2 separate regions of the Homo sapiens genome follow, and region 1 is linked to region 2. Evidence: fine-mapped expression QTL. A gene starts in region 2. The other region holds a variant in brackets. All regions are shown on one strand. Distances are between the middles of the regions.

The links. PIP is the estimated chance that this variant, and not a neighbour inherited with it, causes the effect.
Region 1: its variant is the best candidate, but not a certain one, in a credible set for the expression of NRTN in whole blood (TOPMed, PIP 0.85).

The regions. Positions count from the first base shown.
Region 1 is chr19:5,768,229-5,772,228 of GRCh38, reverse strand. CATSPERD (catsper channel auxiliary subunit delta) reads right to left here. Exons shown (of 22, transcript NM_152784.4): 18 at 3,987-4,000; 19 at 1,157-1,285. Among named protein-coding and RNA genes, the nearest start is that of PRR22, 15 kb to the left of the region's middle. The variant C/T (reference allele first, on the strand shown) is at 2,428.
Region 2 is chr19:5,802,592-5,807,097 of GRCh38, reverse strand. NRTN (neurturin) reads right to left here and starts at 2,031. Exons shown (of 3, transcript NM_004558.5): 1 at 1,647-2,031. RefSeq lists an enhancer at 2,846-3,140 and a silencer at 2,841-3,140.

The DNA.
Region 1 (4,000 bases), 35 kb after region 2:
AAAAAAAAAAAAAATTAACCGGGCATTGTGGTATGCAACTGCAGTCCCAGCTACTTGGGAGGCTGAGGCAGGAGGACCGCTTGAGCCTGGGAGGTTAAGGCTGCAATGAACTGTGTTCATGCCACTGGACTCCAGCCTGGGCAACAGAGCAAGACGCCAACACAAAAAAAAAAAAAGAAAAAAGGAAACAGAGAGAGAGAAAGAAAGGAAGGAAATGAAGGAAGGAAGGGAGGGGAGGAAAGGGAGGAAAAGAAAAGAAAAAAAGAAAAAAGAAAAGAAAAAGAAAAGCTATATGAGGTCATAGGATGTAGGGTGGGCCCTGATCTGATAAGACTGGTGTCCTTATAAGAACAGGAAGATGGCCAGGTATGGTGGCTCACGCCTGTTATCCCAGCACTCTGGAAAGCTGAGGCAGGTGGATCACGAAGTCAGGAGTTCGAGACCAGCCTGACCAACATGGTAAAACCCCATCTCTACTAAAAATACAAAAACTAGCCAGGCATGGTGGCACGCGCCTGTAATCCCAGATACTCGGGAGGCTGAGGCAGGAGAATCGCTTGAACCCTGGAGGTGGAGGTTGCAGTAAGCCAAGATCATGTCATTGCACTCCAGCCTGGGTGACAGAGTGGAAAAAAAAAAAAAAAAGAACAGGAAGACAGCAGGAGTGCACAGGCATAAAGAAAAGCCCATCGGCCGGGCGCAGTGGCTCATGCCTGTAATTCCAACACTTTGAGAGGCCAAGGCAGGCGGATCATCTGAGGTCAGGAGTTCAAGACCAGCCTGCCCAACATGGTGAAACCAAATCTCTGCTAATTAGCTGGGTGTGGTGGTGGGCACCTGTGGTCCCAGCTACCTGGGAGGCTGAGGTGGGAGGATCGCTTGAGCCCAAGGGACAGAGGCTGCAGTGAGCTGAGATCATGCCACTGCACTCCATCCTAGGCGACAGAGCAAGACCCTGTCTCAAAAAAAGAAAAGGTGTTCCAGGGAGAGGGCCCTGGGGGCCAGTGGGGCTGGGGCAGGAGCACGGTGGGAAACAGTGACCATCATCATTTTGAGGGATCTAGGGGAGCCTGGAGGGCCAGGCTGGTACCCCAGGGCCAGGGAGCATGAGGCCCTGCCACCGTCCCCACCCTGCAGCACCCCCCTGGGGTCTTACAGCTCCACCACGGGCTTCCATAGGGTGTCATAGTAGACGAGGAGAGGACAGCCCAGCTGCTGGTAGGAGTAAAACACGTGCAGGTCCTCGGAGGACTGCTGCCCCTGGAAGCCGGGGTCGTAGAATTCCCTTCAAGACACCAAGAAGCAGAGATGGGGAGTCTGTGAGTTCCTGCCCAGTCTGCCAACCCTTCACAGCCGCAGTTTCTTTTTTGCAAATGGGGATCGTCCATGAGAGTGGCAGGAGGTGGCATCTGAGGTGGGCGATTGAGAGCCATGGACCAGATGATATTGGAACTTCTGTTCTAGTTAATTTTTTGGCTGGAGCATAGTAATGCAGTCATGACTCACTGCAACCTCCACCTCCTGGGCCCAAGCAATCCTCTCACCTCAGCCTCCCGAGTGGCTGGGATTACAGGCACGCACCACCACGCATGGTTAATATTTTAAATTTTTGTAGAGATGAGGTCTTGCTGTGTTGCCCAGGCTGGTCTCAAACTCCTGGCCTCAAGTGATTCCCTCACCTCAGCCTCCCAAAGTGCTGGGATTACAGGTATAAGCCACCAAGCCCAGCAAAATTTCTGCTCCTTAAATTAGATCAGTGCAAAAGTAATCGAGGTTTTTGCCTTTTTTTTTTTTTTTTGAGACGGAGTTTCATTCTTGTTGCCCAGGCTGGAGCACAGTGGTGCAATCTCAGCTCACTGCAACCTCTCTCTCCCGGGTTCAAGTGATTCTCTTGCCTCAGCCTCCTGAGAAGCTGGGAATACAAGTGCCCACCACCACGCCCGGCTAATTTTTTGTGTTTTTAGTAGAGATGTGGGTTTCATCATGTTGGCTGGGCTGGTCTTGAACTCCTGACTTCAGGTGATCCACCCACTTCAGCCTCCCAAAGTGCAGGGATTACAGGGGTGACCCACTGCGCCCGGCCGGTTTTTGCCATTACTTTCAATGGCAAAAACCGTAATTACTTTTTTTTTTTTTTTTTGAGACAGAGTCTCGCTCTGTTGCCCAGGCTGGAGTGCAGTGGCGTGATCTCAGCTCACTGCAACCTCCGCCTCCCGGGTTGAAGAAATTCTCCCACCTCAGCCTCCTGAGTAGCTGGGACTACAGGCATGTGCCACCACGCCTGGCTAATTTTTGTATTTTTAGTAGAGACGGGATTTCACCATGTTGGCCAGACTGCTCTCAAACTCCTGACCTCAAGTGATCCACCTGTCTCGGCCTCCCAAAGTGCTGGGATTACAGGCATGAGCCACCCTGCCCGGCCAAAAC[C/T]GTAATTACTTTTGCACCAACTAATAAATTACCCAGTTTAAGGCATTTTGCAATACAGCCCACATAGACTAAGATGACACTCCCCTCTGTGTCCTCCGCAGGTTCCAAAGTCACTGCCCCTTAGCAGCCCAGAAGCACTAGTTTAGGCCTCAGCTCTAAATGGGTAACTGACTCTTGACTTGCATTTGAGGGCTCAGGTCTTACAAATCACATGGAAGTGTGCACTCGCGTGGCAAGGAGCTCCCTCATGCTGGGTGCAATGAGGGGTCTTCGTATGGTTTGGATATTTGTCCCTTCCAAAGCTCCTGCTGAAACTGGATCCCTAGTGTTGGAGTGGGAGCCTAGTCAGAGGTGTTTAGGCCACAACGGCAGAGCTATGAATGGCTTGGAGCCATATTTATGGTACTGAGTGGGTTTTCATTCTCAGCTTCCATGAGAACTGCTTGTTTAAGAGCCTGGCACCTCCTCCCCCCATCCCACCACCCTCTTTTTTTTTTTTTTTTTTTTTGTCTCTAGGTTGCCCAGGCTGGTCTCAAACTCCTGGCCTCAAGCAATCCTCCTGCCTCAGCCTTCCAAAGTGTTGGGATTACAGGTGTGAGCCACTGCACCCAGCCTCCTCCCTCCTCTCTCTCTCTCTCTTTTTTTTTTGAGACAGAGTCTTGCTCTGTTGCCCAGTCTGGAGTGCAGTGGCTCAATCTTGGCTCACTGCAACCTCTGCCTCCCAGTTTCAAGCAACTCTCCTGCCTCAGCCTCCCGAGTAGCTGGCATTACAGGTGCCCACCACCATGCCTGGCTAATTTTCGTATTTTTAGTAGAGATGGGGTTTTGCCATGTTGGCCAGGCTGGTCTCGAACTCCTGAGCTCAAGTGATCCGCCTACCTCGGCAGGGATTACAGGCGTGAGCCACCGGGCCCGGCCATAACTCTTCTTTATAAATCACCCAGCCTCAGGTAGTCTTTTAAAGCAGCACAAATTGACTGAGGCCCAGACTCTCGTATGGGCGTGGCAGTACATGCTCACTGAGCCGGACAGCATGTGGGACCAGCCAGCTGAGGGAAGAGGATCACTTGAGCCCAGGAGGTCGAGGCTGTGGTGAGCTATGATCGCATCGCTGCACTCCAGCCTGGGCCACAGGGCCAGACCCTATCTCTTAAAAAATAATAATAGGCCGGGCGCGGTGGCTCATGCCTGTAATCCCAGCACTTTGGGAGGCTGAGGTGGGCGGATCACGAGATCAGGAGATTGAGACCAACCTGGCTAACACAGTGAAACCTCATCTCTACTAAAAATAAAACAAATTAGCCGTGCCTGGTGGCGGGAACCTGTAGTCCCAACTACTCAGGAGGCTGAGGCGGGAGAATGGTGTGAACCCGGGAGGTGGAGCTTGCAGTGAGCCGAGATCGCGCCACTGCACTCCAGCCTGGGCGACAGGCGAGACTCCATCTCAATAATAATAATAAATAAATAAATAAATAAATAAAATTCCTAATTTGCTCTTGGCTTTTGCAGGCCCAATGGTCGCCTTGGGTGTCAGGTGTTGCGGGGGGACGCTGGCTTACTTCTCGATGATGAA
Region 2 (4,506 bases):
CAGCCCCACCTCTGAGGCCCTTCCTCCAGGAAGTCTTCTCTGACATTCCTACCCTGAGGTAGAGCCCTCCATCCCCACTCTGAGCTTCCCCAGCCCTGTGTCCCTGGGTCTAAATCTGCCTCCCTTGAAGGACAGCACCCAACAACCCTGACACCAGTCAACCACGCGGTTGCCATCGACACACATTTGTCGAAACAATCTTTTGATTGTGTTGTGCCCGGCTGCAAACTTTTTGAGTCCCTTCTGCCCAGCTCTTGAAAGCTGTCTCCTCTGTTCGCTCCCTGAAAACTGGGACCTGAAACGCCGAGGGGCCAGTGCTGATGGTGGAGTTTCAGATGCAGTACCCAGCTGAAGAGGGGAATGTTTTATTTTCTTCCCTGCACCCCTGGAAGAAGCTTTCTGTAGCTCCCTGGGGGTGGAGTCGGTGCCGGAGCTATGAACCTCGGGAGTCTTAGGATGAAGGGAGGAGGGAGGGGTGTCCAAAGGGCCCCAAGGCAAGAAGCTGGGGGTGGGAGAAGCTGGCAGTGTGGGTGGGATCCTGCCCCTCACTGACATCCTCTGAGGCTGGTCACACCCCACCCAGGCTTCCTCAGCCCGGGGCACTCAGAGACAGACAAAGAGGGCCATGGAACAGGGACAAGGATGTAGAGAACAGGGAAAGGGCAGGGGAGACAGGCAAGAGGGAGGAAAGTCAGGGGTCCGGCCTCCTGCACCCCCCTGCTTTAAGCCCCTGGCCCCACTCCCCAAATCTGGACCAATGACGAGCCCTGCAGGTAATCACAGGCCTGTGGGCAGGTCGGATGCGTTCTGGGGAGGGGACAGTGGTGGCATTCACCCTGGGAGAGCCATTTCTCTCTCCAGCACACCCCCCTCCCCACTAATCTGTCTGCAGCCCCCTTGGGCCTAATAACTCCTAATCCACAAACCACCTCCTGGGACAATTCGGGGCTATCCCCGTGCAGGAGACACCTTTTATAAAAAGCAGGAAAGGCAGGCACAGCCTCCCGCCACTTCACATCCAGGCTTTGCCCTTAAGGGACCCCCACCCCCAACACCAAAGGGTTTCACGCCCTCTGGTGGCTGAACGGGCTGCTCCAGGAGCCGAGAGGGCCCGGCCCTCACCGGAGGACACCGTGTCCCCGGCGGCGGCGGCGGCGAGCAGGGAACGCGCCACTGACAGATGTTTACTTCTGTGCGCAGCTGGACCGCGACGGCAGCCCCCCGCCCGGGCTCTGCAGGATCCGGAAGCCCCCCAACGGCCCCTTGGAGACCACATGGCTAAAGGGCTGTCTGGGTCTCGCCCTCCTAGAGGCTAAGGGGATTCTGGGGAGGGCACCGTGCGTTCCTCAGATGCACACTTGGAGGTTTTAGGAGACAGGAGTGCGCCCGCCCCGTCGGACAGGGACACCGCGGCTGGATTCGGGCTTGGAGAGCCGCTTAGGATCTGGCTTCACGCCCCCGCCCCTCCCCACGCGCTGACCTGTCGTCCCTCTGACCCCACCCTCATACACCCGCTGGTTCTGCTGCAGGAGGGAATCCCCTGGTCTACTCGGAGTCCTCAGCACCCTCCATGCCCCGTCCATGGGGCAGGTCGTCCCCGTCGTACCCTGCTGCCCCCCCACCTGCCCCGCCTGCCCCTTGCTTACCTGCTGTGGGCGCCGGACTACCCGTCAGTGGCGGCCGCGCGGCCCCAGCCCCTGCCCCAGCCGCCGCGACCGCCATCCGGGCCGCCTGGGCCCGCGGTGCCCGGGGGGGGCCCGGGCCGGAGGGGGCGGCCGCGGGCGGGGTGCGGCGCGGGCCGGCCCATGGGGCCCCCCGGGCTCGCTTAGCCGCGGGCTGCGGCCATCCCGGGCCGGCGGGGGCTGGGGCTGGGGGTGGGTGCCCTGGACGGCCGGCGGCTCAGAGGGCGCGGGGCGCGGGGGCGCACGGACGGCGCAGGCGGCCTCGGCGCGCAGCACGGGGCTCCGGGGCGGCGGCGAGAGGGACCTGGGCACTCGGAGCGGCTTCAGGGCGCGCTCTCCCGCCGCCTCCGCCCGTCCCGCCGCGGACGGCTCGGCCGGCGCGGGGCCGGGGGCGGGGCCGGGGGCGGGGCTGGGGGCGGTGGCTCGGGTTTCCCCGGCCCTCCCCGCCCTCCCCGCCCCCGCCGGAGGGGACCGGAGGAGCGCAGGTGGCAGAGGCGCGGGAACCAACCACAGAGCCCCCTTTAGACGGCTTTCTCCCCCGGCCCCGGGGACTCCGACGGCTCCCCTTCGGGAGAGCCGGGACCCCAAGACACCCCCTCCGAAGGTGTCTAAGAGCCGCAGCTGTCCCGACGCCAGTGCCTGTGGCCCTTGGCGCCCCCCACATTCTATCGAGGATCTGACCTTTCTGCCAGACCTCCCAAACCTGTCCCAGGTCCCCTTCCAGAGAACAAGGCGCCAAGAAGTCCCTTCACTAAAGAAGCCCCTCAAGGGAAGCCCCCAGAGCGGCGCCCCCCTCAAACTAGCTGTTTCCCATCCTCACTCCGGGGACCCCTGACGGCTCCTCTTGCCTAAATCCGGAGCTCCAAGACGCTCCCCCGACCCCTTCTGGCGAACTAAGACCCATGGCCCACACCCCAACAGCTGTGGCCCCCGCATACAGCTCCCCCCACCCCACTGAGGATTGGGGTGTCCCCCTCCAATCTCGTCCCAGGTTCTCCTTCCCCAGAAGCTGAAGAAGCCCCCTCCCAAGAAAGCTCTTCCAGGGAACTGAGACGCAAAGTCTTCCCCTCGGACGGATGACGACACCCGCTGTCCTCAGCGCCCCCCATCAAGCAGTAAGTCCCCCAGTGCGGCCTCAGAGCCCTGCAGGGGATTTCTCGCTCCTAGCTCCCGCCGGCGCCCCCTCCTGGCACCAAGGCTCACGGGCAGGGGAGCCCAAACCCACCCGGGCTCCTCCCCGACGGCTCCGCGCTCCCACAGCGCTCCCTGGCGGCGCCGGGCTAACTCGGGGACGGGACTGGGATGGCTGAGCTGGGCTGGGACTGCTGCGGCCCCGCCCCCGCCCCGCGGGGTGACCGAAAAACTCCCGCCCTGCAGACTCCTCCCCGCGCCGCCTGCGTTCTTGGAGCCCCCGTGCTCTGGTTTCTCGCTCCCGCCGCTGAGGTTCTTGGGGCCTCCTCCTCACTCCGGCCCTGGCTGCCTGCATGTTTCTGATTCCAGCAGCCTGGGGGTTCGCATGCAGATTAGGCCTTCCTAGAAGATCCCTAACCCCAACATATGCACGTCCCCACAAAGCGCCTGTAAAACTTGCGGGGCCGCGCAGTGCGCGCGGTGATGGGGACACTCACGCAGCCTCGCCTCCTGCTGCACGCGGGCTGATGCACGCGGTGCTGTGCACGTGCGCGGGGTGCGTGCTGGAATGTGAGTTGTGGGTGGGGGGACGAGAGAACGGACCTATGTCAGAGAAGTGGCAGCCTGTTCCCAGATCTAGGATGGAAGTTAACAGGGATCTGTGTTCTGTGTGGCCTTGGGCCTTCCCCCCCGTGCCTCAGTTTCCCCACTTGTAACAGGGTATTACTAGTAGATCTTCACTGTGTTCTAGTAAGGACTGAATGAGTGTGAACAAGCTTGTATAAGTAATGAGTAAATGTGAATAAGTAAGTGAGTAAGCCTGGCAAGTTGGGGGTGATGTCCCAATGTCTGCCATTACTAGTGTTCCCAAATGTTCACTCCCAGAAACCCACTCCCAGTGACACACATACCCTAACCTCAAACACACACCCTCAAACCTTTATTCCCGGTGGGGTCACCCCCCCTGCCATCTCTCTTTTTTTTTTTTTTTTTTTTGAGACGGAGTCTTGCTCTGTTGCCCAGGCTGGAGTGCAATGGCATAATCTCGGCTCACTGCAACCTTCGCCTCCTGGGTTCATGTGATTCTCCTGCCTCAGCTTCCCAAGTAGCTGGGACTACAGGCGCGCGCCACCACGCCCAGTTTAGTAGAGAAGGGGTTTCACCATGTTGGTCAGGATGGTCTCGATCTCTTAACCTCGTGATCCGCCCGCTTCGGCCTCCCGAAGTGCTGGGATTAGAGGCGTGAGCCACCGCGCCCGGCCTATCTTTCCTTCTCACACAAACCTAGACGCCCTAGTGAGCACAGACACTCCTGCACTGTCACACCCCGCCCCACCCCCGGGTCCTCACACGCAGACACACGCTGACACAACCCCTCCACGAGTATCTCACAAGGTCACGCGTACACTCTCCTGCGGGGGTCCTTCCTTACCCCACGCCCTTCTGAATGCACTCATGCCCACAGACCCGGGGTTCACTCAGCCCGACACACACACACACACACACACACACACACACTCTCAGCAGATCCTTACACACCCCCACGCTGCCTGGCACTGGTTAGTACACACACACACACCCACACACACACACAGACACACACATACACCCCGGGCCCCGTCTGGAAGGCACAGCCACCCCTGCACACACACAGCAGGGCCAGGAGCCCACCCCCACCCCAGCCCTCCATCAT